Regions from separate parts of the Homo sapiens genome. Here region 2 is linked to region 1. Evidence: fine-mapped expression QTL. A gene starts in region 1. The other region holds a variant in brackets. All regions are shown on one strand. Distances are from middle to middle.

Region 1 (15,485 bases):
AGGCATCAAGCTACAATGTTGACATATCTTCTGTCTTGAAAGTCTACAGCTCCCATATGTCCTCAACATGTAATATCCTATTTTTCAATACTTCCAGTCAATGCAGTCAAGAACTGCCAGACAGAGCAGCTCTCTTCATTGGAATCATATTATATCCTTCCCTATAAATAGCAGCCTGCTTCCACCATTTATTTATATGTAATCATGGGTCATGGCTTGCTGGCCCAGTGAAAGACAGGTGGCGTCCCAAGACTCCTAAAGTACTGTCATTTCTCTAATGTATATAGTTGGGGTTTCAGCAGGGCTTGAGTTTTAAAACTAATCTTAGGTTTTCAAGAAAATTAGAAAAGTTATTTTCTAAGGACCCAAAGGTATCCTTGGGAGGACACCTGTTAAACAAAACTTCCTCCTAGAGCTCCTTGCCCCTTGCCCCTTCAGTTAAATAACCTCAGAAGTCAGGAGCTGTTTTCCAGCTTAGCCATTAAGATACAAAAACAAAACAAACAAAAAACTTCCCCACAATTGGGCACTCTTCTCTAACATAAACCTATCCTTGCACCACTAGGCAACACCTTTCTCTAAAACATCACATTCAGACTGCCCTACCTCATGCTTGTCATAATTAATTCGAAATGAGTTATCCTAAATCAAAAGCAGTTATTGAGTGTTTGCATGCACGTGTAATCCCAGCTACTTGGGAGGCTGAAGCAAAAGAATTGCGTGAACTTGGAAGGCAGAGGTTGCAGTGAGCTGAGATACTGCCATTGTACTCCAGCCTGGGCAACAGAGTGAGACACTGTCTTTAAAAAAAAAAAAAAAAAGTCATTATTGAACTGACTGCATTTTAAAATAATACCACTCCCCAATTCTCAAGAGTAGAGATTGACATCCTTTCTCTTTAAGGAAGGAATACAGTCCCTTGGATTAAGAACCCCAACAGGCCACAGGCATGGCAGAAAAGGCACACGTTTGGATTAAGACAAATCTAGGCTTTCATCGGAGCTTGGTTACTCAGCTGTTTAGCCTTGGTGAAGTCCACAGGACCTCTTTAAGTCTCATTTTCTGCCTCAGTAAAATAGGTATAAAACACCCACTGATCTCAGCAGATAGTGAATAATAAATATTAGTTACAGTCCCCACAAAAAGGGCTGAATGGAAAACCAGATAATCCTTGTTACATGAAAAAAGGGAAAATAACACTTCCTGGAAGCCTCTTTAGTAAGTGCCAGGCACTTTGTTAGGCCCTTTCTCATACTGTCTTACTCAAATCTTAAGACATCCTTTATTTCCCCCACCTTCCTTTTTAAAAGAGGTTAAATAACTAAGCAGGTCATCAGAAGTGGTTAGTCCTATTTTCAACCTAGGTGTTTCTGACTCCACTCACTCAACAGGCTATTTATTATGTGGCTTACACGGATAATTTTGAAAACACATGCTACTTCCAAACCGTGGTTTCAACAGAAGAGAAGTTAGAATTGAGCACATCTTTATAAACATAATAAATTCCAAAATGAACACTGATGATTAGATCTTAATCAAGCCTACCATCATAATTAAGGTTTACTATCTAAAGCACCACAGTTAATCATCTTGAGAATAGCTGTCCTTATACAGAAACCATTATTTATAAAATCCAGGTCAAACCTAAGCTGCAGTATGGGCCACCAACGCACATACACTAATACAAACCTCAGCTCTGACCAACAACCAAGGCTACTGCTGAAAACTGTTCAAAGAGGTCTTGGTGGCACCTGCATTCATTTAAGGACTGATTCAGTGTCTACTGTATAAATACTGCTTCCAATAGTAAACTCTTGTAAAAGTCCAAATTCAAACATACCAGTAACAAATTTCACCTTTCACTTGGATTTAGCCCCTAAGAAGTATAATGTACATTATAGCATAAACATAACTTTTAAACGCACTGTGAAACCAAAACATTCCTGTGACTCACATTATTGCCTTTCTCTCTAAAATGCACACATGCCCACAGATATAAAACTCGGCAGGACGCCCCATTAAAATCCATCCATAGCCCCTCTTACAGGGAATTCACCATCCCCAAGTAAAAACCTCTTACTGAGGAATTTATTTATGTTTTAAGAAATTTTCCTTTGAAGTACTAAAAGAAAATTTCTCGTTTTAAAAACACTGTCCTTTGAGGAATTTACACTTATCAATTTATAAAAATTTTACTTACAACTTCACATTAAAAGGACACATCTTCTAAGTCCTTTAAATTCTTGCAATAGTAAGAATAAATTAATTTTAAAAACTTCTCTAGTTTCCTTTATCCACTAATTAAGAGTGCTCACAAGATGTGTGGTCCTGAACTAGGGGTGGCAAAGAAGAGAGTTCCAAGGTATTGTCAAAGCCAAGGACCTTGAAAAGCTTACAATCTAGTTGTACAGTCTGTTCTATTAAAAACAAACAAAAAAAAGTTCAACAACTTACTAACCATTTTGAACAAAAACAGGTGATTTTAAGTTGAAACCTTTAAATGGACAGGGAAAGGAATACTGTAGGAAAAAAGACCAAAAAATAGATTCATAGAAATTAAAGAAGGAAAAGGACTAAGTATTGTAAGTGACCAAAGGACTAAGCATTCTAACATATCCTCAAAAGTAACATATCCTCAAGAATGCATTTGATTTATCAGATAAACCTAGCTTGAAAAGCTATAGCCAATTCCACAAACTAAGTCAATAGAATAACACAAACATGGCACAACTTCTATAAAAATGTTACCTTAAAAAATGTTACTGCAAACTATTAAGAAAGCAAAGTTAAATTTAATTAGCTTAAGACAAATACATGGCTAGCATCCTATACACTTTCATTATCATGCCCATGGCAGACATCACCAATCAATCACACCACACTTCCCTCCCTCCCCCAATATAATCTAAAGACACAATCTTCCAGCAGAAGTCAAGATAGGCATTATTACTGAAACTATTTGTTGTCCTTGATGGCTATTTTTCAAATATTGAAGTTGCCGGGTGCAGTGGTTCACGCCTGTAATCCTAGCACTTTGGGAGGCCGAGGCAGTTAGATCACCTGAGGTCAGGAGTTCAAGACCAGCCTGGCCAACACTGGGAAACCCTGTCACTACAAAAATACAAAAATTAGCCAGGCATGGTAGCGGCGACTGTAATCACAGCTACTTGGGAGGCTGAGCAAGGAGAACTGCTTGAACCCGGGAGGTGGAGGTTGCAGTGAGCTGAGATTGCACCAGTACAGTCCAGCCTGGGCAATAGTGCAAAACTCTGTTTGGAGGGGGCGGGGGGAGGCTGGGTGCGGTGGCTCACGCCTGTAATTCTAGCACTTTGGGAAGCTGAGGCAGGCGGATCACCAGGTCAGGAGTTCGAGACCAGCTTGGCCAACATGGTAAAACCCCATCTCTACTAAAAATACAAAAATTAGCCGGACAAGGTGGCACACGCCTATAATCCCAGCTACTCAGGAGGCTGAGGGAGGAGAATCACTGGAACCCGGGAGGCAGAGGTTGCAGTGAGCCAAGATCGCGCCACTACACTTCAGCCTGGGCGACAGAGCGAGACTCCATCTCAAAAAAAAAAAGAAAGAAAAAAAGTATAATTTTCTGTTAAAGAAAATAAATCATTATGGTCAAGAGAACCTTAATTAGGAACACATTTTTTAAAAAATGTAATCCCCTTTTTAAAGAGTTCTAGAAAATTATATTTTTTGAGAGCTTATTTTTGACCCATTTGAATTAAAAAACCGGAGATAGTCGCTTTTTCTCTTTTTCTTTTTCTTTTCTTTTTTTTTTTTGAGACGGAGTCTCGCTCTGTCGCCCAGGCTCGAGTGCACTGGCATGATCTCAGCTCATTGCAAGCTACGCCTCCTGGGTTCACGCCATTCTCCTGCCTCAGCCTCCCAGTAGCTAGGACTACAGGTGCCCGCCACCACACCCGGCTAATTTTTTCTTTTGTATTTTTAGTAGAGACGGGGTTTCACCGTGTTAGCCAGGATGGTCTCGATCTCCTGACCTCGTGATCCGCCCGCCTCGGCCTCCCAAAGTGTTGGGATTACAGGCATGAGCCACCGCGACCGGCCTGACAGTCGCTTTTTCTGAGTATCCAAAAAGTTACAATCAGACAGGCCCATTCATTAAGGGATTTTTAAGAATATGTATTTTAAAAAATATATCTGTAAATCTAATAAGAGAAAGAAGCACTAACGGTTCTTGCAGTTTAAGAGAAATACAGGTCAATATTAACCAAACACTTCTGAGAATATATGTGGTCACTTAAGATTTGTCACTTCCTTCAAAATAATTTAAGGTAGACTCCCGAAGTGAGGTGATAAAAAAGGGAAATAAAAACAGATCCCTGGAACTCTAGGATCATGTTATAGTGGGTGACATTTAGCATACAGTAAACCAACAGGAAGCAGTGAAAATCTGGATTCGGGAAGTTGTAAGAGAGTACTATGGTATAAGTGAGAAACAAACATTTCTTAAATACTCAAATCTAATAAAGAAAAATATCTAATATTCTACGAAAAAAACATGAGGCTCTAGCTCCCTAATCTAACAACAAGGTTCAACTATTATATATACATAAGCAGATAACAACACAATCTTAGGAATATAAACACCATTAAAAGGGGCATTTCAGGCCGGGCACAGTGGCTCACGCCTGTAATCCCAGCACTTTGGGAGGCCGAGGCGGGCGGATCACGAGGTCAGGAGATCGAGACCATACTGGCCAAGATGGTGAAACCCCGTCTCTACTAAAAACACAAAAAGTAGCCGGGCTAACGTGTTAGCCGGGCGTGGTGGCGCGCACCTGTAGTCCCAGCTACTCAGGAGTCTGAGGCAGGAGAATCGCTTGAACCCGGGAGGGGGAGGCTGCAGTGAGCCCAGATGGTGCCACTGTACTCCAGCCTGGGAGACGGAGCAAAACTGCTTCCAAAAAAAAAAAAAAAAAAGAAGGCGCGGAGGGCGGGGGTGCATTTCTCCACCAATCTCAATTGCATTAATAGTAAAAACAGTAACTTGCTTTGAGAAACTACGTGTAGTAGTATCCATTAGGGAAAACTGGGTCTATTTTAAAAGACTTTTTTAGTAAAGTTCCTTCAGCAGAAGCTAGTGAGCAGGCATGAATTACACATTTCCTACACATTCTAGAGCCCCATATGTATATCCATTCAGACCCTTTCTTCCACTTTTTTTTTGTTATTTTAAGGATTAGTTTGAAAAGGCTTTTGTACTTCTACAGTAAGTACAAAAATACAACGAACATTCCTGCCCAGAATCTTTATTTCTACCTAAAACAGCAGTGAAACCTGAGCCATCTGTAAAGACCTGAGGTAGTCCAAAAAAAAAGAAACAAAACACTTCTAAAAAACCTTTTAAAAATAAATTTGCATCCGATAGTCACTAGGTGCTTTTTCACTTAGGTCACTCGTTTAAAAATGAATTTAAAATTTGCGTAGGTTGCCACACTGCACAAAGAAGAATCAAAACAGATCAACTTTGCTCCGTAAGACAAACTATTTTAAATAAAGGTGACAAGGACAAAGAAGAGTTGACATCTGGGCAGTTATTGCTGGAAGAGCTTTAGGGGTAGAAAAATGCTCAGGTAGCCCATGCTTACAGAACACTTTTCTTAGTGGCTTTAATTGCGCATTACCAGTACTGAGTAGTACACAGAGCGCACTTACTACTTTTGATAAATGGGGGAGGAAATAAAGACGAAGGTCCTTCAGAGAGTCAATTAAGCAGCCACCGAGAGGGATGAAGGGCAAGGTAGATCAGGAACCCCTCTTGGTTTCCGCTTGTCCAGAAAAACAACCGTCCTACTGCGCACACCCGACACCGAGGCTCCAGCCTTTGGTTTGGCCAGTAAACCAAAAGCGACCAGTAGAGCCCAGACTAGGAGCTCACTCACTCACCTCCTGGATGCGCTTCCTGGCCCGCTGAAGCACTTCTTCGTAGCCCTTCTGCCGCAGCTCGCTGAGGCTTTCGTAATACTCCTCGGGATCATCGGTCTCGGTGAAGAGCACCTGGGAGAGGATCTTCCAGCCGCAGGTGTCCAGGCCGTGGCCCAGGTAGACCTGGAGCTGGTAACACAGAGTGTCGATTTCCTGCTCGGTCATCTCGGGGGCGCCCCCAAACAGCACAGTCCACATGCCCGAAGGTTCCTCGGGGAACACCGGCAGGCACGGCTCCAACTGCGAGTTCACCGAGCACAGCTGCTGGTGCACGGCGCGCAGGTCCTGGAAAGAAAACAGTCCGGCCCAGCTGCACTCTTCGGCCGGAGACTCCAGCTCGGTGGCGGGCGGCGGCTGCTCCGCGTCCGAGAGCGCCAGAGGTGCCTCGTCCTCCTTCACCATTTCCAGCACCTCTATCTCCTCGGAGACCGTCCCAGAGGCGCTCACTATCCGTACAGAGGACACCTGGGCCTCTCTGGGCGCCGGCCGGGCTGCTGCAGCGGCTGCCCCCGCCGCATCGTCGGCTTCAGATGTTTTCTGACCCGGGATGGGTTTGGCCCGCACTGGGCTCCTAAGACGACTCTCCGCCCCTTTGCTGCCAGGACTCCGCAGCCGCGGGTCCCCCAGAAGGCTGCGAGTGCTCCGAGGAGAGCCGCCCTCCGCCCAGGCCGAGCTCCGCCGGGGCCCGGGGCTCCTAACCAGAGTTGCAGAGGCAGTGGCCTCGGGCCGACCCCTGCCCGCCGGGCTGCCGGGCCCGCGGCTCCCGTCGGACGCAGCTCCGCCGGCCTCGGCGCCCCCTCGCGCCCCCGCTTGCTCCCGGGAGCCGCTCCTCTGCCTCTGGGCCGTCCGGTTGTGGCAGGTTATGGCAAACTTGCCCTCAATCTCGTTCCAGGCCACAATAAAGACGAATTTGTGTTTCTCGCGCTCGTCGAACACATGGGGCCGCACAGCCACCCAGTCCGACTCGAGCGTCTCCTCCAGCGCGAACGACATGGTGGCTCCGGCTTCTCGCCGCGGGGAAGGGCCGCCGGCCCGGCCCGCCCGAGGACTCCCCGCTGGCTGCGCCGCGCCCCCCGCTCACCCTCGCCGGGCGCCTTCAGCCATCTTAGTGCGCCGGCCGGCTCTCCCGGCTCGTTCGCCTGTCCCTCCGCGCCCCGACCGCCGAGCTCCTTTGTGGCGCGGATCGAGAGAAGGACAATAAGCGTCCCGGGAGCAGGTAGTTCACATGGTCACCTGCGGCCGGATCTGTTTACAAGCTCCGCGCTGCCGCAGCGCCTCGCGGCCGCCCGCCGCCCCCCGCGCGAGGCCGTGGAGCTGCGTCTGCGGCGCTCCGGTGGTGAGGCGCGGGTCCCGCGGGGTCAGGCCGGCGCTGTATGCGTCCCGGTCGCTCGCCCAGGTCAAGATCCCCGCCCCCGCCCCTGGTGCTGCTGCAGAAAGCCCGGAGCCGGCCTGACTGATGAACCCGTCTCCTAAACTCTGCGCCTCAGCATCGCCACAATGTTGCCATTCGACTGCTGACGTCGGCGGCTCCACGAGGGACGTAAACATGGGCACGTGCCGCACGCTGGTGACGCGGCGGCGGCGGCGCGCGCACCCCGCCCGCGCGCGCCGGCGCCTCCTCTCGGCGTCCCCTGAGCCAGCCCGCGAGCGGCCGCGCTCCCGACTCTCCTTCCTTCCGCGCAGCCTCCAGTTCCCCGGGGCTGGAGCCGGCTGTCGGCTGGTTGCCGGCTCCGAGGGCGATGAGAGTGGCAGGTGTGCCCTGCTGCACAGGTGGCCTCCGAACCCGGGAAAAGAGGAACTAAGGCGGAGGAACTGAGACGTTTCGAATTCCAGGTATTGAGACCCTCGAATGTACATTTGCCTCCATTCTCCTGGAGGGAGCCCGGACGGAGAGTCGCTCCTGCGTTCAGAAGTAGCGTGTTGCCGCGGGGAACGGTGTGCTGAACTATGTGGGGCTCGCCCCCAGCCTGTTAGGTTCTCCCCTAATGCCCTTGAGACCAAAACAAAAAACAAAAACAATTCCAGAAGCTTTTCTGGAAAGACAGAGTTTAATATATGAAAGGAAGGTGTCTGAGGAAAGCCCAGTAACAGTCCAAAACAAAATGAAAAATGAAAATGCCATGTCCTAACAGCATGAATGTTTACATTTCAGTTCATTGGTGTTTTATTGCTTCAGGTTTCATCATTATGTACTGTTCTGTGAACCTCGTTTTGAGGTCACTGGGCTTTAGCCCTTTTGAAGTTGTATTCAATTATGGGAGTTCCCAGAATGCATATACAAAAACAGTCATATCAATCTCTGCTATTCTTACTAAACTATGATGAAACACATTCTTAAAATTAGTAGACTTTATAATAATTATTGGCATTCTTTTTCCGATTAGTATTCAAGTCACAGATGTTGTGCACCATAGTAAAGCACAATGGAAATTAGTTCTTTTACATTTATTCACATTTCTAAAGTATATACAAAACCGTTTGGATTAGCCTTGTATTGTTAGGTTCAGTAAAAACAGCTGTTTATTCAGATGACAGAACAGTACTGAACTAGCTAAGCTTCAAACTTAGTTCAGTATTGTCCATCTTAAACTCTAAGCTTCAACACTTGGTTCAGTATTGTCCTGATATTTGAATAAACAGCCAAAAAAAATTTTTTTTTTGAGACAGAGTCTCACTCTGTGGCCCAGGCTGGAGCACAGTGGCACGATGTCAGCTTACTGCAGCCTCTGCCTCCCGGGTTCAAGCGATTCTCCTGCCTCAGCCTCCCAAGTAGCTGGGATTACAGGCACACACCACCAAGCCCGACTAATTTTTGTATTTTTATTAGAGACGGGGTTTCTTCATGTTGGCCAAGCTGGTCTCGAACTTCTGGCCTCAGGTGATCCGACCGCCTTGGCCTCTCAAAGTGCTGGGATTACAGTCGTGAGCCACTGAGCCCAGCTGGTTTTTAACATTTTGTACAGTTCATTATTTGAAACCACAAATTTTCAAAGTTTGTAACTGAGTTTGTGTCAAATCTCAAATGCAAGTCAGAGACACGTTCTGAAAGGCAAAAAAGAGAGAAAACCCATTTCAAATCTGAATTACGGGGCTGGGCATGGTGGCTGACGCCTGTAATCCCAGCACTTTGGGAGGCTGAGGTGGGCAGATCACTTGAGGTCAGGAGTTCAAGACCAGCCTGGACAACATGGTGAAACCCCGTCTCTATAAAAAATACAAAATTAGTCGGGTGTGGTGGCACGTGCCTGTAATCCCAGCTACTTGGGAGGCTGAGGCAGGAGAATTGCTTGAACCCGGGAGGCGAAGGTTGCAGTGATCTGAGATCATGCCACCGCACTCCAGCCTGGGGGACAGAGACTCCACCTCAAAAAAGAAAAAAGAAAAAAGGTTTGAATTACCAGCTAAGCAAACAATAGCACATTGTAGAAAACTTTCTCTTCTTTTTTGCTAAAAAGCAACTGCAAAAAGCTAGTTTTTCTGATAAAGCATTACTGACATGATCCCATTATGTATAATTGTGAATACAGAGAATGAGTATTAAAAGAATTTGTTTACAAGTTCTCTTCAGAGTAGAGGACAAGAAAAAGAAAAAAATTATTATTTAAAAAAATAGTCCGGGTGCGGTGGCTCACGCCTGTAATCCCAGCACTTTGGGAGGCTAAGGTGGGCAGATCGCAAAGTCAGAAGTTCGAGACTAGCCTGGCTAACATGGTGAAACCCCGTCTCTACCAAAAATCCAAAAATTAGCTGGGCGTTGTGGCAGGTGCCTGTAATCCCAGCTACTCGGGAGGCTGAGGCAGGAGAATCGTTTGAACCCGGGAGGCAGAGGTTGCAGTGAGCTGAGATCGTGCCATTGCACTCCAGTGCCTGGGCAACAAGAGCGAAACTCCGTCTGAAAAAAATAAAAAATAATAATATTTTGGCTGGATGGCTGGACACAGTGACTCATGCCTGTAATCCAAATGCTTTGGAAGAATTGCTTGAGCCCAAGAGTTTAAGAGCAGCCTGGGCAACATGGGGAGACCCTGCCTCTACAAAAAAATAAAATAGACCGGGCGCGGTGGCTCCAGCCTGTAATCCCAGCACTTTGGGAGGCTGAGGCGGGTGAATCACCTGAGGTCGGGAGTTCGAGACCAGCCTGACCAACATGGAGAAACCCCATCTCTACTAACAATACAAAATTCACCAGGTGTGGTGGTACATGCCTGTAATCCCAGCTACTTGGGAGACTGAGGCAGGAGAATCTCTTGAACCCGGGAGGCGGAGGTTGCGGTGAGCAGAGATTGCTCGATTGCACTCCAGCCTGGGCAATGAGCAAAACTCCGTCTCAAAAAAATAAAAATAAAAAATAAAATAAAATAAATAGCTGGCCATGGTGGTATGCACCTGTGGTCCCAGCTACTTGGGAGGCTGAGGTGGGAGAACTGCTTGAGCTCAGGAGGTCAAGGCTGCAGTGAGCCATGATCGCACCACTGCAGTCCAGCCTGGGCAACAGAGTGGGACTCTGTCTCAAAATAAATAAATAGACCAGGTGTGGTGGCTCATGTCTGTAATCCCAGCACTTTGGGAGGCCGAGGTGGGTGAATCACTAAAGGTCAGCAATTCGAGACCAGCCTGGCCAACATGGTGAAACCCCATCTCTGCTAAAAATACAAAAATTAGCCAAGCGTGGTGGTGGGCACCTGTAATCCCAGGCTGTAATCGGGAGGCTGAGGCAGGAGAATCACTTGAACCTGGGAGGCAGAAGTGGCAGTGAACCGAGATTGCGCCACTTCACTCCAGCCTGGGCAACAGAGCAAGACTTCGTCTCAAAAATAAATAAATAAATGGAAATAAAGAATGTTATAAGAAATATTTTATGTGCACGTATATTAAAATTATAATATTTCGTCAAGTGGTGTTAAGAGTAAAATAACATGAAATTATATTTATTCATGGATAGAAAATTTTATCTTATCAGAATAGTGATACACAAAATTGGTTCACAGTTACACAGGTGTTAAGTATTTCCTCTCAATACACTGGCCACTGTGTTTTGTCAAATGAGATGTTTCAGTGTTTCTTGTTCGTGCTATGTTAGTAACTGTTATCCTAGAAATGAAGAGAAACAAACCAAAATTCCCATGATAGGTTACTATAGTACTCTACAATTCTTTGTTTAGGTCTGTATCTGATTGCCAAGCAAGATCTCTCAGTGTATAAGTTACTCCCTGGGAATAAGCAAAGCTACAGAAAAACCCCACATACACCATACCAGCCTTCAAAGGGCTTAAAACTATTATCTGTTTGAAGTTTTTAGAACTATTGTGCATCTTTAGGTAATTCAGGAAATGCTTTAACTCTTTAGAACTTTTCATAAAAACTATAATAGTTTACATAGTGATTTTCAAATTATATAGCATTTTCTCACCTCATAATAACCATGAAATGTAGGTATGAAAGGAATAAGCATCTTTAATTTATATAGGAGAAAACAGCAGTTCAGATTAGTTAGGTTACACATCCCAGGGTTGGGAGCAGGGAGCAACTTCAGTTCCGGGGTCCATTTGCAAATCCACTGGTGTCTCAGTTAGATTCTCCCGGAAGCAGACACTGAGAAGTAGGAACGCAAAAAATTTATGGGGTGCCGGGTGCGGTGGCTCATGCCTGCAATCCCAGCACTTTGGGAGGCTAAGGTGGGCGGTCACTTGAGGTCAGGAGTATGAGACCAGCCTGGCCAATATGGTGAAACCCCGTCTCTACTAAAAATATAAAAATTAGCCGGGCGTGGTGGCACAAGCCTGTAGTCCCTGCTACTTGGGAGGCTGAGGCACGAGAATCGCTTGAACCCGAAAGGTGGAGGTTGCAGTGAGTCGAGATCATGTCACTGCACGCCAGCCTAGGCATCAGAGTGAGACTCTGTCTCAAAACGAAAAAAAAAAAAGTATGGAGGCGACCCCTGTGGAAGAGAAGGGGAAGGGGCAGAGGCAGAATCAGGCAGGCTAATCCAACAGGGAGTTCTGAGGCAAAAATTTCCCTTAAAGAAGTTCCTCATGGCCAGGCACGGTGGCTCATACCTCTAATCCCAGCACTTTGGGAGGCCAAGGCGAGTGGATCACCTGAGGTCAGGAGTTCAAGACTAGCCTGACCAACATGGAGAAAACCCATCTCTACTAAAAATACAAAATTAGCCAGGCGTGGTGGCGCATGCCTGTAATCCCAGCTACTTGAGAGGCTGAGGCAGGAGAATCACTTGAACCCAGGAGGAGGAGGTTGCAGTGAGCCAAGATCACACCATTGCACTCCAGCCTGGGCAGCAAGAGCGAAACTCTGTCTCAAAAAAAAAAAAAAAAAAAAAGAAGTTCCTCTCATTGGGTAGATATAGCCAGGCCTTGCTCAGTCATTGGCTGGGGACCACCCTGAGAAAAGCACAGGATAAAAACCTGAAGCTGATGCTGAAGACACTAACAGGTGGGGAGTGTCCACTTACCATACTCCTTGCAGCTGAGGGGTGGCTCCTTTCTAGAAGGGGGATCTAACTGACACATCTTCACAACTGCCACAGTTTACCTTGTGTGCCACATGGATCCACTTCATAAAAACACGTGGGAAGCATCTCCTCTAGGGCTCTGGTAGGCCTCTGTTCCCGAGGGAAAACAAAAGAGGGAGGTTATTGGGGCAAACTACAGCCTCCATAGCCACAGCTGATCTCGCAGCCACAACTGGTGCTCCTTTTTCTCTTTTCTTTTTAATTTTTGTTTGTTTGTTTAAGACAGGATCTTGCTCTGTCACCCAGGCTGGAGTGCAGTGGTGCAATCTTGGCTTACTGCAGCATCTACCTCCTGTGCTCAAGCAATCCTCCCACCTCAACATCCTGAGTAGCTTGGGACCATAGGTATGCGCCACCACGCTCAACTAATTTTTTTTTGTAGCGACGGGTGTCTCCTTATGTTGCCCAGACTGGTTCCGAACCCCTGAGTTCAAGCTGTCCTCCTGCCTTGGCTTACCAAGGTGCTAGGACATTTACAAGATACACAAGCAGTAAGGGTGCACCTAGCACAGCAGTGGTCCTCGGAAACCAAAAGTGTTCTCCCCACTGGAGGCCACATACAAGATTCCATCTGTATCTTTTTCCTTCTAGTAAAGCTCTCCTATAGTTAGGCTGGACTGTTTTTTGGTTTTTGTTTGTTTGTTTGTTTGTTTTTTGAGATGGAGTTCCGCTCTTGTTGCCCAGGCTGGAGTGCAATGGCACCATCTCGGCTCACTGCAACCTCTGCCTCCCAGGTTCAAGCGATTCTCCTGCCTCAGCCTCCCGAGTAGCTGGGGTTACAGGTATGTGCCACCATGCCTGGCCAATTTTTTGTATTTTTAGTAGAGACTGGGTGTTTCCATATTGGTAAGGCTGATCTCGAACTCCTGACCTCAGGTTATCCAGCTGCCTCGGCCTCCCAAAGTGCTGGGATTACAGGTATGAGCCACCATGCCTCACCAGGCTGGACTGTTTTATCCACAAACAGAAGATGCCTTTTCAGAAGGAAGATGGATCCTTTTTGTGATGATCCACAAGAACTGAGCCACAGATGGAACTGAATGGCTGTCAGATGGAACCAAGTTCTTCCGTTTGTCAGTGTCAACAATCTGAGAGCCTGAGACTTTTTTTTTCCACAATCACCGGAACCCGGTCAGGATATTTTACTCTGATCTTCGGGAACTGCACGCATCTGTTTTCTAGCGAGTGGTTCTCCTTGAACATCCACTTCAGGGTGGTGGCAGGGAGGGGACATAGCCGGCTCTAGAAACCACAGAGCTCAGCACAACCACCATGACAACAATGGCAGTGGCAACAACACACAGGCCTGTTCTTTACTCTTAAGGGAATGTCCTGACCACAGGATGTGCAGAAACTTTACTGAGGTAGAAAGTACCTAATTTTTTTACGGTTTATCTCGCTCTAGAGTGCATGTGCCTTACCAGCATTTCCAGCATGATAGTATTCTCTTACTAATCCTGGCCTGATCAGCATGATGTCATCAATGTAATGAATGAATCAACATGATATTCTGCAATTTGTCCAGATGGTCCCAATGTCTTCAGGCTATATTATGACAGATGGTCAAAGAATTAACATGGCCCTGGAGCACATTGTTGCTGATCTTCTTTCCTAACTGAGATAGAAGAGAACACATTTGCCAAATCAGTGGCTGCATACTGTGTACCAGAGACTGTATTATCTGTTTTAGGAAAGACACCACATCTGGCCAGGCAGCTGTGATCAGGTCTATTTCTTGGTTGAACGTTAGTCTCCAGGATCTGTCTGGTTTTTGCAAGGACCAGACCAGCAAATTAAACAGAGGTAGGTTAGGGACCAGCATGCCTGCATCTTTAAGAGTGGCCCTAACTTCTGCCATCCCTCTCCAGGATTATACTGGTTTTGATTCACTATCTTGGTGGGAGGGAGGCAGTTTGGGAGGCTTCTACCAGACCTTCCCCATTATCATAGCCCCCACCAACAGGTACAGCCTGTGGGTTACTCTGCCACAGTGTCAATCCCAATGAGATATTTGGGGACCAGGGAAATATTCACCAGGTAGTTTCATAGACCACTGGACTCACTCCTGGGCCAGGGCTTCATTTACTGGCCCCTGTAGGCCCCCCCTCTAACACAGCCCATGATGATGTTTCCAGTCATTGGGTATCTGTGTCAACTTGGACCCTGTCTCCAGAAGTTCCTGGAATGTTGGAGTAAATCCCTCACTCCAGTGAACAGTCACTCATGTCTTCCACAGAAGAACTGGAGAAATCACTATGTATTGCAGGGTTCTTGGTACTGGGATCTGGCCATCTCTTAAAGCAATGGGCACTAGGTCTGAAAACTGATTTAGGTGCAGAAACTGGGCAAGAGAGATCCTTTTGGGTAACTGCCCTCAACCTCCTGCTCATCTACCCTTGCTCTATTTTGATCATGTACATTAAGCAGTGCCTGTTGGCTGCCCAGCTATTTTGCCCCCAGGGATGTTGTTTTCTATTAACCATAACTGTGGACATTGTGACCCTCTGGCTTTTGGTGGTGAAGTGCTACCACCTGGCCTCTGTTGTTCAGGTCTTTTCATCGCCATTGCTATTCGTGAGCCAAATTATGTGACTGCTTCACTGACCATTAACCCTGGCCTGTGGAGGAGAGCCACACTGAACTTCATCACCATGCTAGGGCCCCTGCCATCATCATATTACTAATGCTCTTGGTAAATGTGTGTCCTTTGAGCTTTCCTGGAGAACATACTCCTTATTTTGGCCCCGTGTAATTTATCCATTCCAGCATTCCCACTTCCTGAGCCTTTTACTCCCTTTCTCTTCCCTATACCATGGGAAGCATTTTAATACAGTCTCTGTGAGGGCCATTGCTTTTTTCAGGCTTCTAGGAGTACCCTGGTAGCAAGTTTCATCATCCCCTGGATGCAGCCTCACTCCTTGCATTCAGTAGCAAATTCTTTAAGGGGGATCTGAGCAGTTCGTGTCCTGATCTGCTATGAGTACCCTTTTTGGTA
Region 2 (15,485 bases), 86 kb before region 1:
AGGCTGGGACCCAAGGGTGGCAGGGGATAGAGAAAGAAGTGTGTGTGTGCCAGGTGTATATTAGAGTTAGGTATGACAGGACTGGGAGATTTGGATGGGAGCCGGGAAGTGAGGTTGAGAAAGGTATCAAGGATAACTTCTAAATTCTGAAAGGCAGAACTGGAGGAATTGTGAAAGACGGGGAAAAGTGGGAAAATTAGGGTTCAGGTTTTGATGGTGATAGGGTCAAGGGGACTGTTTTGGGCATGTTATATTTCAGATACGTGTGAGGCTTCCAAAGAAAGAGGTCACTAGGCAACTGAACACATATGGACCTGCGTACATACAGTGAACTGAGAAGAGGCGAGGACATGGAGTCATGATGAGAGAGATGTCATCTGGAACCATGAGAAAGAGTAACTAGGCAGAGAGGGAAGAGTTATGAAAGAAGCCTAGAAATACTTAGATATTTTTTGTTTCAACCATCCATGAAAGCCAAATCATCACGCTTCTATGTAACGGAGTGAAAGCATGACTGGGGTTGAGATGATGCTGAAGTACTGCCTTCTGATAAGTCAACTTGATGCAATGACAAAAGTTAGATAACGGTAGGCAAAGTTGGAATTGGCATTAGAAAACCTTTCAGCAAGTGCTGGGTCACAATAAATGTTTGGTTGCATTTTCTGACAACTCTTGGAAGTTCCAGAGTTAATCCTGTGTTTCAGAAATTGTGGGACTGACCCACGAGCTTGTTGCACAGGTAAGCCATCCTGTTTCTGAAAAGAGGTGGGTCACAAAGTGCCCTATAGGGAAGACCAAATAATTCCTCTAAAAGGATATTTGAGCCACCAGAATAACTTGAATACTTACTTACTCAAGTAAGATCCCAGAAGTTTGGGTCTTTAAGCATGAAAAAGATCATTTTGGTCTATAACATGGAATGTTGTTGCCACCTGGACTACTTCATCTCAGAGAACCACTGTATGGCATCTGTATAATGTAATTTTGAATACACATATAATGTCACATGTCCTAGGCATATCAGAAAATAATATGCCTAGGATGGCTAGACTGTAAGTTCCCCTCCCTCCCCTTACTCCTCTCCCATGACTTTAGAGGTGATCTACTTAATGGCATTTATTCGTCTGGCTTATACACTTACACACTGTACAATATCTGCAAAACAATTCACAGTAGGGTGTCTTTTTATTTTTTTTTTATTTTTTGAGATAGAGTCTCGCTCTGTTGCCCAGGCTGGAGTGCAGTGGTGTGATCTCAGCTCACTGCAACCTCTGCCTCCCAGGTTCAAGCAATTCTCCAGCCTCAGCCTCCTGAGTAGCTGGGATTACAGGCACATGCCACCATGCCCGGCTAATTCTTGCATTTTTTAGTAGAGATGGGGTTTCGCCATGTTGGCCAGGCTGGTCTCGAACTGCTGACCTCAAGTGATCGGCTCGCCTTGGCCTCCCAGAGTGCTGGGGTTACAGGTGTGAACCACCGCGCCCAGCCTATACAAAGTTTTAAGAATAACCATATGATTAATTCCTGCTATACTTCCCTTCCATTGAAAAATGTTTACAAACAATATAAGGTTTCTTGTGGAGTTTTCCAATCTCTCACCAGTCTTTCATTACACAAAACATCTGTTGATGCACTTGGGGATGAATAACCTTTCAATTGTTCTTGGTATTAAACAGTTCTGACAGAAATTGGCCAGTATATTTAATTGTTTAAGGCTTTTCCTCAAAACCATATTTTCCTCATAAGCTTGCAATGACTTGGTAAAATCATTATTGCACATTTCAATATAAAGGGCTCCAGATCACCAGAGGAATATGGCAAGACATTTACTGAGGGTGGAAAGAGATCAAACTGGCTGCGGTCACTGGAATGTTCTAGCTCTGAAAGCGTGTAAGTAGAAATTCCTGAGACTAAGGGAAAATTTCAGATACTACAGTTTTCAGGGTATCACTGGAAGTGAGACAAACAACTGCTGAGGCATTGGTGGGGATCTATGTTTCTTTTCTTCTTTTCTTTTCTGTTCTATTTTTGAGATTTTGATCTATTTGATCTGAGTGTGTAACTTTATAAATATTTTTCTGCCTCTCCCCACCCCCATTTAAAAATTTTCCAATTTGGAAGTCAGCACTTCCAAACTTTGTGAATATTTATAAACAATGAGAAAGTTCATTAATAGCACAAAGAAAGTTGCCATCAAAATATGTCACAACAAACAGCGCTCAGGAAGAGGCAGAAATACAGGCATGGATGGTCTCTGGATCCTGTTCTCCATGTTATAACTTTTGTCATAACAGATATACAACTTGCTATGGTCCTCCTATTTGAAATGAAGTGAAAATATGTACCACTGATATTTTAAACAAACAAAATCAGGTTAATTAATTCAAATAAATATCCTTTATTAAAGAAAAAGAGGAATATTGTTAAAAGCACCAAAACTGTAGGTTGTTACATTGCATGTACAACAAGAGAAAGGTGATTGCAATACTTGGTGTACAAGTACTTAACTCTGAAGTCATGAGTGTAAAAAACATGAAATACAAAGCAATACAATTACAATGCAGAAAAGCTGCACTAAAGAGCAAAAGGCAACAGTCAAAACGATTACTGGAGATTTCATGGTATTGCTATAAATGCTTGCTTAGTTTTTCCTCTGTACTTTTAATACTTTAGGATGTTAATTGAACATATTTAAGTATTGTAAATTTGCAAGAGTTGGCATTTACAATACACTGTGCACACTGTCCATTTAATGTAATGGTACTAAAGCCATCCTTACAAGCCAAGCAAAGCACAATGTGCTAGTGTTTTGCTTCTACCTTTTATAATATTGCACAAAGCTAGTAAATGGTGAATGAGTTTTCCATTAAAATTTTCATTTACCCAGAACCGATAAAAATCATGTCAGTCTCCTTAGCCCTAATGGGCAATTAATTATTCATGCAAAATAATCTGCAGCCTTCCATTTTTCATTAACTACATATTATAGTTTGCACACTTGGAAAGACATATAATACAATGAGAAATTCAATGAAACAATGGAGATTCTGTCAAAGTTAAAGAACTCAGAAGTCACTGTATGGGTAGCATCATTTACCCCTCTTGGTTCACAAATGAAGGGAAAATGCCACCTAGTGATTATGCAGACTTTTTAAAACCAATATAATTAGTATTGGGAAAAGCTGGAATAATTTGTTACACCCTTTGATAGCTACCCATAGAACATGCAAGTAAAAAAAAAAAAAATCCCCAAATTTCCCTTGTTAAAACTGAACTCTGTAACCAACATCCATACCTTGTGTTTTCATCTACACATCACTTTTCAAGGTCTTTCCTATCCACCAATTCCCCCAAATTTAGCCACTCTTAGTGTGCCTAATTAAAAACAACAAAAAACACCAGCAAAAAACAAAACTTTCCCCTAACCCGCAAAACAAATGACTGCTTTGAGATTCAGTGTGAAATAACATTCATCAGTTATTTAACAAGTCAACCTCAGAGGTATTTTCTGTACATGCACCTTACAGTGGCATAATGTCTCTGCAGAAGGGAAGAGACAGTATAAATTTGGAATTCAATCAATTAAATCCTACAATTGCGAAGTTGTACATTTACTGTGGGCAAAACGTAGAAAACTTTACAATAAACACATCTTAAGAATAACCCAATGGGGAAACTTTTCATACATTCACACACACAAACGCACACTCTCGCCGAATCTAGACTCCCTCCCGCCTTTCCAAACCCTTTGCTTACATAACATAGTTTAGGCAACAATATAAACTCACTTTGTAGGAAAACTTTTAAATTACACTATATCGGATAAAAAATACCATTGCTTCATTTTACAAAGCAATTAAGCAGTGACCCTTCTTAATGTGCTTTAACTAAAGAGCACTTTGCAGCAAAGTTCAGAAATAACTACTGAATTGTTCAGTAGCACTAAATAGATGCAACATGCTCTAACAGTAAGGTGCTTCCACTTTCTCACCCCTTTTCCATCTGAAATAAATCTTGCTGGTCACTCCTCTAACCATAGCTCTTTTTCTATGCTAAGCAGTAAGTGGGAAATAGAATCTGTTTAAAATGCACACTTAATTTTATGTTATCATTTACATTTAGTGCAATAATTAGGTAAAACTTAAGGTTTCTGCTTTCATTATCAAATGGCTGCATTTTAACAATGTGTCTGCAATGGTTTTGAAATGTCTTACAGCTGTTCATTTTTTACAAGTAACCTGGTAAAGCGTATGAAATTTCAACTCCCTGATAGAGCCCTTAAGGACCCAATAGTACTTTTTACACATTGGTATCTGATGTTAAGTTTGTAATACTTCAATAATAAAGCTGAAAAAAGAAAACCCCAAAAACCTTGTATTTAGCTTTGCCTAGGCTAAAAGCATTGACTTAAATTTATACAAACACTCATGTGACTGTAACTTAAAAATGGTGTCTTAGGGAATGTGTAAAATTAAATTGTATTAATTGTATACTGATCCCATTCCAAACAGAGAGAATGCTGCCCATTAGTTTTTGTTTCACTGATTTAAGAGTTTTAATTCTTAGTGTCTACTATGGCCCAAGTATGCTTTGCAACTTGACACACATTCTGTGATATAAAGTGGCCATGCCATATGTTACCAAATATTACTACATAGTTCAACTTTGTGGAAACAATTTTTTTCCTTATTACATAGAGTAAGTCAAAGTGCTGAAAATTATTTTCTGGTTTTGTGTTATGAGAAAAGCTCTACATTTCTATTCCCACTATTACAGCTGTGTCTAGGAGTCTCCTTTTAAAAAATGCATTACAGAAATATTTCAGTTCCACAATGAAGAATTAAGGAATGATTGTTTTTATGCTGCTCACAAACTCAGTAAGCCTATATAATACAAGCAAAACCATTCTTCATCTTTTAAAAAATCCTCTTTAGCCAGGCATTCCTCATACTGCTGTAATATACACAATGATTTTAAATAATTAAAAATACCTTTCCTACACATGCTACATTGGTTATAATTTTGGTTGCATTAGGAGCCATTTGAAATTGACAGTCAAGTGGGCAGTAACATTAATCTCAAAATGTCCCAAACTCATTTACTTGTTTTACCTATTTTAAATGCATTGCAGTTGAGACTAGATTGGAAATTAACTTCTAAATTGACTCAGCATAAGCAAACAGCGGTTTGTGGATACAGAAATCATATATTAACAGAAATGTGTCCAATATTTTGAAGCACATAAAAAGTACGGGCGAGTTTGGAACTGGAAATGTGAGCATCTACAAGTACCATCATAACTAAATATACACATATTTAGTATCAAGGCCGAAGATCCTGATTTTATTAGAGGCAAGAAGAAAAAAGGACATTTAACCAGGCTTACATAATTTTTGTTGGGTTCTGAAGCTACTTTAAAATTAACAGGTGGGTTCCACTGGTAATGTCATCTTGATGGACAAGTAGACCCTAGTTATTTGAAATTTTATTATTATTTGTGAGTAACTCCAAAGGTTTTTGACCTGCAATCATTTGAAATTTTGTAGAAGTAGGAACCTGCACCTTAAGGCAAGGAAATGGGTGTGTTGGAAAGTTATTTACAAGAGGATGGGCATAGCTGGCTGCCAACAATACTCTGCTTTAACCTCCTTCTTTTCCAAGTGTGAGGTGACTCTCATGGAGAACTGTAACAGGATGGGTTGAGAGACTTGTAGATGTATCCATGAGGCTGAGTGGAGTTCTACACACCCTCCACCCTCCACTCTTTGCTAGAGACTTATGATTACAGCACACTCTGGAAGACAGACCACAGGACATATGTATAAAATGAGCCTATTTTATAATGAAATCCCAAAAGTAAAAGAGTAGCAAATTCCCTCTCAAGATATGAATGTTCCAGGGTTTCTGGTTAATTTAACATTAGATCCGTCCGTATTTTTCTGAATTTGAATAAATGAAAAAAAGTGAACCAGCACCCAAAGAACTGGATATATGAAATGTTGACACATGGGTACGTAAAAACTGGATAGCATAAAATTGATACATGATTTTGTAAAGGTTTGCAAATTTGCTTTAACTTTTTCAAATATATTCATATAACCAATCACTCTTTGGGTTAAGAAATACGCTTTAATATTTTACCAAGGGCAAATAGGACACTATCACCACCCCCATGCTGTTGAAGCTTCCATATTACATCTGTATTTCTAATCTTCCCAGATAAGATGTGGGAATAGTGTGGGAACTAAAACCAATGTATTATGAAGATGCTGCAGAGAAGCTCCTAGTCTCATCAATAAACGTATTACTAACATTTAAATAAATAAAAGATTTTGTCAGGCTGGGCACAGAGGCTCACGCCTATAATCCTAGCACTTTAGCAGGCCGAGGCTGGCAGATTGCTTGAGTCCAGGAGTTCAAGACCAGCGTGGGCAACATGGCAAAACCCTGTCTCTATAAAAAATATAAAAATTAGCTGGGGCATGGTGGCATGTGCCTGTTTTGTTTTGAAATAATAAAAAAAGTTGTTGTCTTACATAACCTGTTGCCAGAAAATTTTCTCCCTAATTATTTTCAAGAAAACACTTTAAAATAACAAAGGTGTGAGCATTTCTTTTTTTCTCTAGGAATACCAATTCATATACACTGGGCTTTTGCTCCAGTACTGCTTTCTGGGTTTAGGCCAGATAATTGTCTTAAAAGAAATAAAGTGATTTTTGGTATTTTAGTTCTTAACTCCCTCCACAGAAAGGCCAAGATCTGTCTTATGCAGAATTATATGTACAGGGTACTGCACACTGAGTCCAATGATCTACATGTATTCAAGCCCACAACAATCCTGCTGAAAATCTGGAACATATAAATGTGTCCTTCAGGACTCCATCACAGCCAAAATCAGCACCTAAAGCTGTGTATAAGTTTAAAATTTTAGTGACTATAACAAAGGCATTCTCCCAAAATTCCATTCAGTGCATGTGAAGATGGTGAAATGCCAGCCACGGAGACTTGTCTCTACTTTCTATCTTTGTAGAGCACATGCTTTTCACTGTGGAGCATAAAAATAAAAACTTAAAATGGTAATTTGTGAAAAGAGTTAAGATCTGCATCCCTATGATTGAATCTTGATTTTTGATTCTCAATAGGAAAGTCATGTCAGTCATAGCAATCAAGCAATAATTCAAACAAAATAAAAATAATTTGAAATATTATCAAAGTACTGCCTTCCATAAACAAGGATGCACATAAAATTCAAACTATTATAAATTCAAGAAATATGAAGAGTGATTTAAAAGCACGGAAACTTCAAAACCTTACAAAGTATAAGACTCCTAAAAATATGCCATGTTAAATGTATCATGTTGTGAACATATTAATAGATGTATCTCCATAAATGCAGCTTTTCAGATGTTGCTGAACATCTTTATGAAAAATCCTTTGGAAATGAGTAATGCGGACATTTTAGGTGTATTTCCATTTGATTTTAATGCCTGACTTACAGCTATCATGATGATAAACTTTCTCAGAGTGTCACAGTATTTAATATAAGCTGATATGGAAGAAGCTATTTTTTCAGATGACTTTTCAGTGCATTGAAAGATGGTTCTCAAAGCAGTCCCAATACAGCTCACAGTAGATCTCTGTCAACCCAGTGTTCTTCCAACTTACAGCAAGCCCTAGCTTAACTGGCCATTACAAGGATGTAAATATGTGGATGGAAGGAGAATGTGCTTAAAAAACAGAAATCTCCAGAAGGCCTTTTCTTCATTGCAGTCAGGAACATTGCACATGTAAAATTCATGTTAACCATCATCTATTGGAACGACTGGAAAGTGATAACCTGCCAATTGTGCTTCCTTTCTTCACACCACTGAACCAATGAACTTTGGATCTAATGTTATCCAACTGAGGAACCAAGTGCTTAAACTGTCATTTTCCAAAAGAATCAGAACCAATCTTGAATGATATTTTTCTTCTGTTATGTCACCTGTTTACAAACAAAATAATACAGACCATTAAAAAAAAGACCCTTTAAAGATACAGTGTATTTACGTTCCCTCAAAAAGTGTAAAAAAGACATTTTTTACAAAAGGCCATGACTGTATTCTTAAAGCAGTAAAAATGAAAACAAAATAATCTAAATACAGATTTTGATCACTTTTAAAAGACTATTAGATTTTCATTTTTATTATTTTTACTCTAACACTGTATGAAAACTATATACTAAAAAGGTAAATTCAGTCTAAACTATTTGCCCCATAAACTGCTACTAGAGTAAGAACAACTAAATGGTGTCTTCAAAATGCAGTAGAAACTGTTTTTGTTAGACTAACATTTAGAGGACAGGATTAATACCAATCTTTAAATGGATACTTCACCCGGGCATTTTATTGAAAAGTGTTGTGCTTAAGATCTATGGGGCGTACCCAAAGCACAGGAGCATTTATATAAAAGACATACTCTTCAGATAAAAGCTGACAGGAACATGAATAAAGTACCAACTTAATACAGTTCTGCATTTTCTAATACTGTAGCTACATGTGGCTAATGAGCACTTGATATGTGTCTAGTGTGACTGATCTAGTTTGATTTAAATCCAGTTTGATTTAAAAATCTAAAACAGTAAGTACTATTTTTCCATTAAATACAATTTTGCTGTTTTGGTAGGACATTTCTCATTAAGTATCAGATCCTTAGCATTCAAACTGAGATGTGCTACTAGTATATATAAAACATACACTGAATTTTGAAGACTTAGTGTGAAAAAAAGAAATAGAAAGCAATGTCCTTAGTTTTTAATGTTGATTATGTGTTGAAGGATACTACTTTGGCTACATTGTGTCAAATAAAATATTACAAACATCAGTTTCACATGTTCCTTTTCATTTTTGATGTGACTATTGGACATTTTAAAATTACATGTCTCAAACTATATTTCCTTTGAACTACATTGCTATAGTTACTTTAGAAGACTCCTACAGGGGCCTAGCACAGTGGCTCACGCCTGTAATCCCAGCACTTTGGGAGGCTGAGGAGGGTGGATCAGTTGAGGTCAGGAGTTCGAGACCAGTCTGGCCAACATGGTGAAACCCCTCTCTACTAAAACTTCAAAAAAATTAGCTGGGCATGGTGGTGCGCCTGTAATCCCAGATTGAACCCGGGAGATGGAGATTGCAGCGAGCCAAATACGGCGCCACTGCACTCCAGCCTGGCTGACACAGTGAGACTCCATCTCAAAAAAAAAAA[AAAGAC/C]TCTCACAGGAAACAAACTAGAAGCTTATTTATTTATTGAGACAGATTTCCTCCTGCCTCAGCCTCCCAAGTAGCTGGGACTACAGGTGTGAGCCACCACGCCCAGCTACTTTTTGTATTTTTAGTGGAGATGTGTTTCGTCATGTTGCCCAGGCTAGTCTTGAATTCCTGGGCTCAAGTGATCCACCCACCCCCAGCCTCCTGAAGTACTGCAGAATTACAGGCCTGAAACTTAAAGTTCACACTCAGCCTGAAACTTATTTTAAACCTCTATGTAATTACATACATTTTAAGAAATTTCCTTGAGCATGACTATGGCTATCTCTGGAAAGAGAAGAGTTTCAGAGGGGAACGAACAAGGCAGAACAAGGGACCTTCATTACCTACTTTATGAATATTCAAGAAATTAGCTCTTAAAAGTATATAAGTACATTAATGACAAAATCTATAATCAAGAAATCTGGCCAGGCACAGTGGCTCACACCTGTAATCCCAGCACTTAGGGAGGCAGAAGCAGGTGGATCACCTGAGATCAGGAGTTTGAGACCAGCCTGGCCAACATGGTGAAACCCCATCTCTACAAAAATACAAAAATTAGCTGGGAGTGGTAACACACGCCTATAATCCCAGCTACTCCGGAGGCTGAGGCAGGAGAATCTCTTGAATCACGAGGCACAGGTTGCAGTGAGTCAAGATCACACCACTGCACTCCAGCTTGGGCAACAAGAGTGAAACTCAGTCTTGAAGAAAAGAAAAAAAGAGAGAGAGAAAAAAAAAAGGAATCTAATAAATTAATGGGAAATACAAATTGCGGTAAAGCCTTCTTAGCCATTTGTAGATAAAAAGTTCACAGCCTTTTAGTCTCCATGATCACAAAGTAGTGATACACAGCTACTTCATCACTGCCTAATCAGTCCATACTAGTCTATGGTTTGCTTCTGGGTTAGCACACATTTAGTAAAGGGAGACTGCAAACTTCCAAGCTCATATATTTTCTAAGTGTTTCACTGTTTCTCTCTCAACATTGTACCACATATTCCAGCCATCAGCCGTCTCCCACACCCCCGAAAAAAGTTTTAAGCAATTTTCAAAGTGTATACACCATGCACCATGTTAACATCTGATACTAAGGCTAAATTAGTAGCCAGAAGCTATGAGTAACATCCCAGCCACTTGAGTATACAAAATGCTGATGCAATGTCTAGGGTTAGGCAGGATATGGTGGGATGGGAGGAGACAGACAAGGATAGGCTGACTTGAGCAGCTGCTGGTGTGCTGTGAATGGGCCACTGTGGACCATCTGTAATGAAAGAGCTAAACACACATTTATGTGAAGGTCCAGCTGTGGAATTAGTCAGTGCAAAGATGGTAGTTTTAGGCACAAGCTTAAGCAGCTTCCTGAGAAGCTACAGCAGAAGGAAACAACACATGGTAGTAAGAACTGTAAAGTGGGAGACAACCTACAAATATCCACTATGGAAAAGATTCCCAGTTAGACATACCTGAGAGTCTAGACATTCACAAACTGATATGCATCCCTCTCTCTCTCTCTCTCTCTCTCTCTCTCTCTCTCTCTCTCTATATATATATATATATATATTCCTTTACAAAGCATAGTGGACATATGTACAAGCAAAAATAACTCGAAGTTACTTTGGGATCCAAAAACATAAGTCATACAAAGTGACTGTTACATGTAACTGTATACATAATAGGAAAAAAAGCAGGATAATGCTACTACTGAATGTTGGCTGAATCATGGTGAATGTAATATTACCCTTTTTAAGTTATTGATTGATGCAGATGCTGGTGGAGAGGTACTACAGGAATATTTACCTAATGAACCCATACCCAAAGGAACAGGTGAAACTGCTTTCAGTAATATTTTACCTAATGTAACTAATAGAATCTTTCAATATGTAATCAGTTGTTTAAAAACTGACATACATTACATTTTTATATTATGTCTTCAAAATCTAGATGTGTACTTGCATATACATTAGATCTACTCAGAATTCTTTTTTTTGGGCCAGGCATGGTGGCTCACACCTGTAATCCCAGCACTTTGGGAGGCTGAGGTGGGTAGATCATTTGAGGTCAGGAGTTCGAGACCAGCCTGGCCAAGATGGTGAAACCCTATCTCTACTAAAAATACAAAAAAAAAAAAGAAAAAAGAGCCGGGCATCATGGCAGTCGCCTGTAATCCCAGCTACTCAGGAGGCTGAGGCACGAGATTCACTTGAACCCACGAGGTGGAGCTTGCAGCGAGCCGAGATCATGTCACTGCACTCCACCCTGGGTGAGAGAGTGAAACCCTGTCAAAAAAAGATTTTTTTTCTTTGTTGTTCTACTCAGAATTCTTAAGTCAAGGACAGAATGTCCATTTTTAATAAGCTCCCCAAGTTAATTCTTATGATCAAACATGTTTTAAGAATTATTATGCTAATCGGGGCAACCATAAGGAGACCCTGTCTCTACAAAGAAATTAAAAAATTAGCCCGGCATGGTGGCATGTGTCTGGAGTCCCAGCTACTTGGGATGCTTGATCCCAGAAGGTTGAGGCTGCAGTGAGCCATGAACGTGCCACTGCACTCCAGCCTGAGCAACAGAGGGAGACTCTGTCTCTAAAATAAAAAAAGAAATTCAACAAAAATAATTCACAGGGCTAACACATGAATTAATTATTCCTTTACTTATTCCCTTCTAGGACTCAAGTCTTCCCTACTTTGGTGAATGTTTGAAGCCTAGAGAAACATATTCCATCAAGAAAGAATAATAATTAATAGAACATGTTTGTATACTCTATAAATTTTATACAAATTACAACATTTCAGTTACCATCATTATAAATTTGATATACTGTTTAATTTATACCATGTTATCTTTAATGTTTCTATATATTTGGTGTAATCTGTGCCATATTACTCTATAATTAGTATATTAAAATGTAGTAGACTATAGCTCTCTATTATATTAGGAGAATGCTACATGTGTAACCAAAGAGAATCTTAATATGTATAGGAGTATTCATTAGATATGTAGATAATTTTTATATATTAATGATACCTGCAAATTTGTCTAGATAATACAGTAACTGTGACAATAAGTAGTTTTTTTTAAGGGTTTAGAAAGTTAAATAATCAGACAATGCAACAATTTTTCCAGAATGATCTTAGAAAACTCCTTTGAGGTCAGCTAACATGACATCAAAATTCAGTGTGCATAACAGTTTGTTACTGAAATACTTTGTCAGAAAAGGCTTTGCATTAAAAAAAAAATTGACGTATTGATTTCTTTTTACAGACGGGGTATTGCTATATTGCCCAGGCCGGATTTGAACGCCTGGGCTCAAGAGATCCTCATGCCTCAACCTCTGAGTAACTGGGACTACAGAAGCGAACCACTGAACCTGGAAAGCCTTTTTTTTTTTTTTTTTTTTTTTTAAGACTGAGTCTCACTCTGTTGCCCAGGGCAGTGGCACGATCTCAGCTCACTGCAACCTCCGCCTCCTGGGTTCAAGTGATTCTCTTGCCTCAGCCTCTCGAGTAGCTGGGATTACAGATGCCCGCCACCACGCCCGGCTAATTTTTATATTTTTAGTAGAGAAGAGGTTTCACCATGTTGGCCAGGCTAGTCTTGAACTCCTGACCTCAAGTGATCTGCCTGCTTCAGCCTCCCAAAGTGCTAGAACTACAGGTGTGAGCCACTGTGCCAGGCCCTTTTCTGTTTTTTTAGGGCAAGAATGAGACTGTCACTTTACTTGCAATTACAGCTGTATAGCAGAAATTTTTAATGAGGAGGACATTTTTAAAAATAGTATTTACATAGCAATAATCATTAAAAAGTTATCTTAAGTTTCTAGAAACTACAGAATTAAGTAAAACCTGAAGTTCATAAATTTGTGATCCATGCTAAAATTGGGTTATAAAACAAACGATATGCCTCAGGCTCAATAAAAAATACCCCAAACCTCATCATCCGATATAAAACCTGTATTACTGAATGCTACTAAAGACAATAAGGCCGTTTACTTGTTAGTTCTCCCAGTCTGTGCAAGGTAAAGCCTCCTCTTCGTCCTCTGACTCTGGGGATGCTTCTTTAATTCTTCTAAGAGCTTCATGGATGCTCCGTGTTAGAGGGTCTGTATCGGGTAGAAGTGTGAAGGATTCTCTCAAAACATCCTTCTGTACCTTCTTCAATTTTACCCCTTTCCTTATTTGTGCCAAGATATTATTACTATCATCTTCATCAGGAAAAGGAGGCAGAGTTCGCTGTTCAACCTTTTTCAGATGAAAACTACCACGCTTCAAGGAGGCTAGCACCTCATCCATGGGTGAGCTCACTTTGGAAAATGAAACAGAACAGTATTACAGTTAGGACTGCACTTAATTAGAATGAAACTGTATAACCTCTACCGTTCGCAACTGTGAAAGCACAGGACGCTGAAACACCATCTTCAAAATGGATCATGAAATGTGTGCAGAAGGTGATCAGAACACAAGGGATCCTAATTATCCTTCTTTTTAGAAAATCCCAAGACCCAATCCATGGTGGGTACTGTTGGTATTCCTATCATTTCCTACATGAGAGAAGTGACCAGATTGGGAACTGGGAGGTGGTCTTAGTAGTATTATGGGTGTGATTCCCAAAGGATTTCCATATTGCAGTTGCTCCACCCAAATTCAGAGTGATGGGGTTACACATTTTGTTTTTAAAAATTAATTTTTGTTTATTATGGAGACTGTGCTTTTTTCATTTAGTTGTTTTACATGTGAAATCCTACTCAGATTACATCAAGAAATGTTTTATAGAATGGTCCTTCAGGTTAAAATGTAATATACAAGTAATATGTAACATTTATATAATGTTCTCCCCATGCAAAATGCAAATTCCTTAAAGGCAAAAGGCAAGGGTTATTCTCTGCTCTTTTTAGAAATAATTTTATTTGTGCTTGAATCTCTCTTAACAAAAAAAATTAGAAAAAAAAATAGTAACCTTATTGAGGCACATCTGTCACATTGTAAGTTGAACAGATTACTCCCTGTTCTTCTTTGCTTCTTTATACAAATACACAAAAGTCCTCAACAAATGTATGAACAAATGTTACATGATCCTGCCAATGTCTTCCCTGTGGTGACAGTCCTTACCAGATATCTTACCCTTTCTGATATGAGTATTTTTTTAAAAATCTCAGGTTTAAAATCAAAACTTTTTCCCTAACACAAAAGGAGCCACCCATTATACATTACCAAACATGAATGTATCACTTTAGAAGATCTGTTTTTAAAACATGCCTAACAGCCCAAGAAGGCATACATTTCTGTGTACTTTATGCACTAAGAATTCTCCTCTAGTGTGACTTTGAAAACCTGTTTACTATCAAATAATGTCAAAAATAAAGTGTTTTAAGCTTTGCAACGTCAAAAAATATAGTTTTTTACTATGCCTGATGTCATACAACAGATGGACCATGAAAATATGTTGACGTACCTCTCCTCCTCTGCAAACCTTCAGCAGTCTTTCTGAGCTTCTTCCGTGCACTGACCAGCTGGCTGCTGTCAAAGAGGTGTGCTGAGGGGGCACTGGCTGACTTTGGGATCCTCTTCTCATTCCCCTCCTTTCTAGGCAGATCTTTCTCCAGTGTCTCTGGGCCACTGTCCTTAGCAACAGGCAGAGGTGGTGGTGGTGGGGGAGGGGGAGGAGGTGGGGGAGGTGGTGGTGTTGGAGGAAGAGGGGATGGGAGTGGATTTATGGTAACAGAACATGGTTCGAGGTTGTTATTCAAAAGTGGAAGAGATATAGTGGGAGGCAGTTCAGAGGTAACACCACTGAGAGGTAATGAGGTGGCTTCAAGTTGTGTTAATGAAGTATCTTCAAGTTGCACAAGGCTCTGGGGTTCTGTTGTCTGTGATGGCCCACGCTTGACTCTTCCTTCTCCCACCTCTTCAGTTTTCTCTTCTACCTGTAACACACTTGGTAAAGAGTCACAATGATCCTCTTGGAGAACAGGACTTGCTGCACCTTTTCTTCTTGCATGAGCTAGTCGTAATCTGGTTGATTTAAGTATGACTTGCCCAGGATACCTCTAAAATACCAGAAGTTATTGGAACTGGTTAAATGTTATTGAAACAATTTATGAGCACATGCCTATTTATTTTCTCCTTCAAATAAAAGATGTTATGTGGCCGGGTGTGGTGGCTCACGCCTGTAATCCCAGCACTTTGGGAGGCCGAGGCG

Which allele goes with the higher level. Alleles are on the strand shown, and positions count from the first base shown. SD is a standard deviation of normalised expression in the study named.
For the expression in monocytes of the gene that starts at base 7,474 in region 1, allele AAAGAC in region 2 goes with a higher level than allele C (moderate effect, 0.67 SD a copy in Schmiedel 2018).

Evidence for each region. PIP is the estimated chance that this variant, and not a neighbour inherited with it, causes the effect.
Region 2: its variant is fine-mapped to the expression of JMY in monocytes (Schmiedel 2018, PIP 0.90).

The regions. Positions count from the first base shown.
Region 1 is chr5:79,228,120-79,243,604 of GRCh38, reverse strand. It overlaps JMY (junction mediating and regulatory protein, p53 cofactor), which reads right to left and starts at 7,474. Exons shown (of 11, transcript NM_152405.5): 1 at 5,923-7,474. The coding sequence starts at 6,954. It overlaps LOC124901011 (a long non-coding RNA gene), which reads left to right and starts at 7,582. Exons shown (of 2, transcript XR_007058836.1): 1 at 7,582-7,794. RefSeq lists silencers at 5,945-6,239, 6,523-6,792, 6,963-7,402, 7,433-7,482, 7,523-7,572 and enhancers at 5,913-6,332, 6,384-7,020, 13,829-13,908.
Region 2 is chr5:79,314,105-79,329,589 of GRCh38, reverse strand. It overlaps JMY (junction mediating and regulatory protein, p53 cofactor), which reads right to left. Exons shown (of 11, transcript NM_152405.5): 9 at 14,739-15,333; 10 at 13,280-13,590; 11 at 2,379-7,984. The coding sequence ends at 13,283. It overlaps LOC102724530 (a long non-coding RNA gene), which reads left to right. Exons shown (of 3, transcript XR_001742756.1): 3 at 11,956-12,581. Among named protein-coding and RNA genes, the nearest start is that of JMY, 86 kb to the right of the region's middle. The variant AAAGAC/C (reference allele first, on the strand shown) is at 9,244.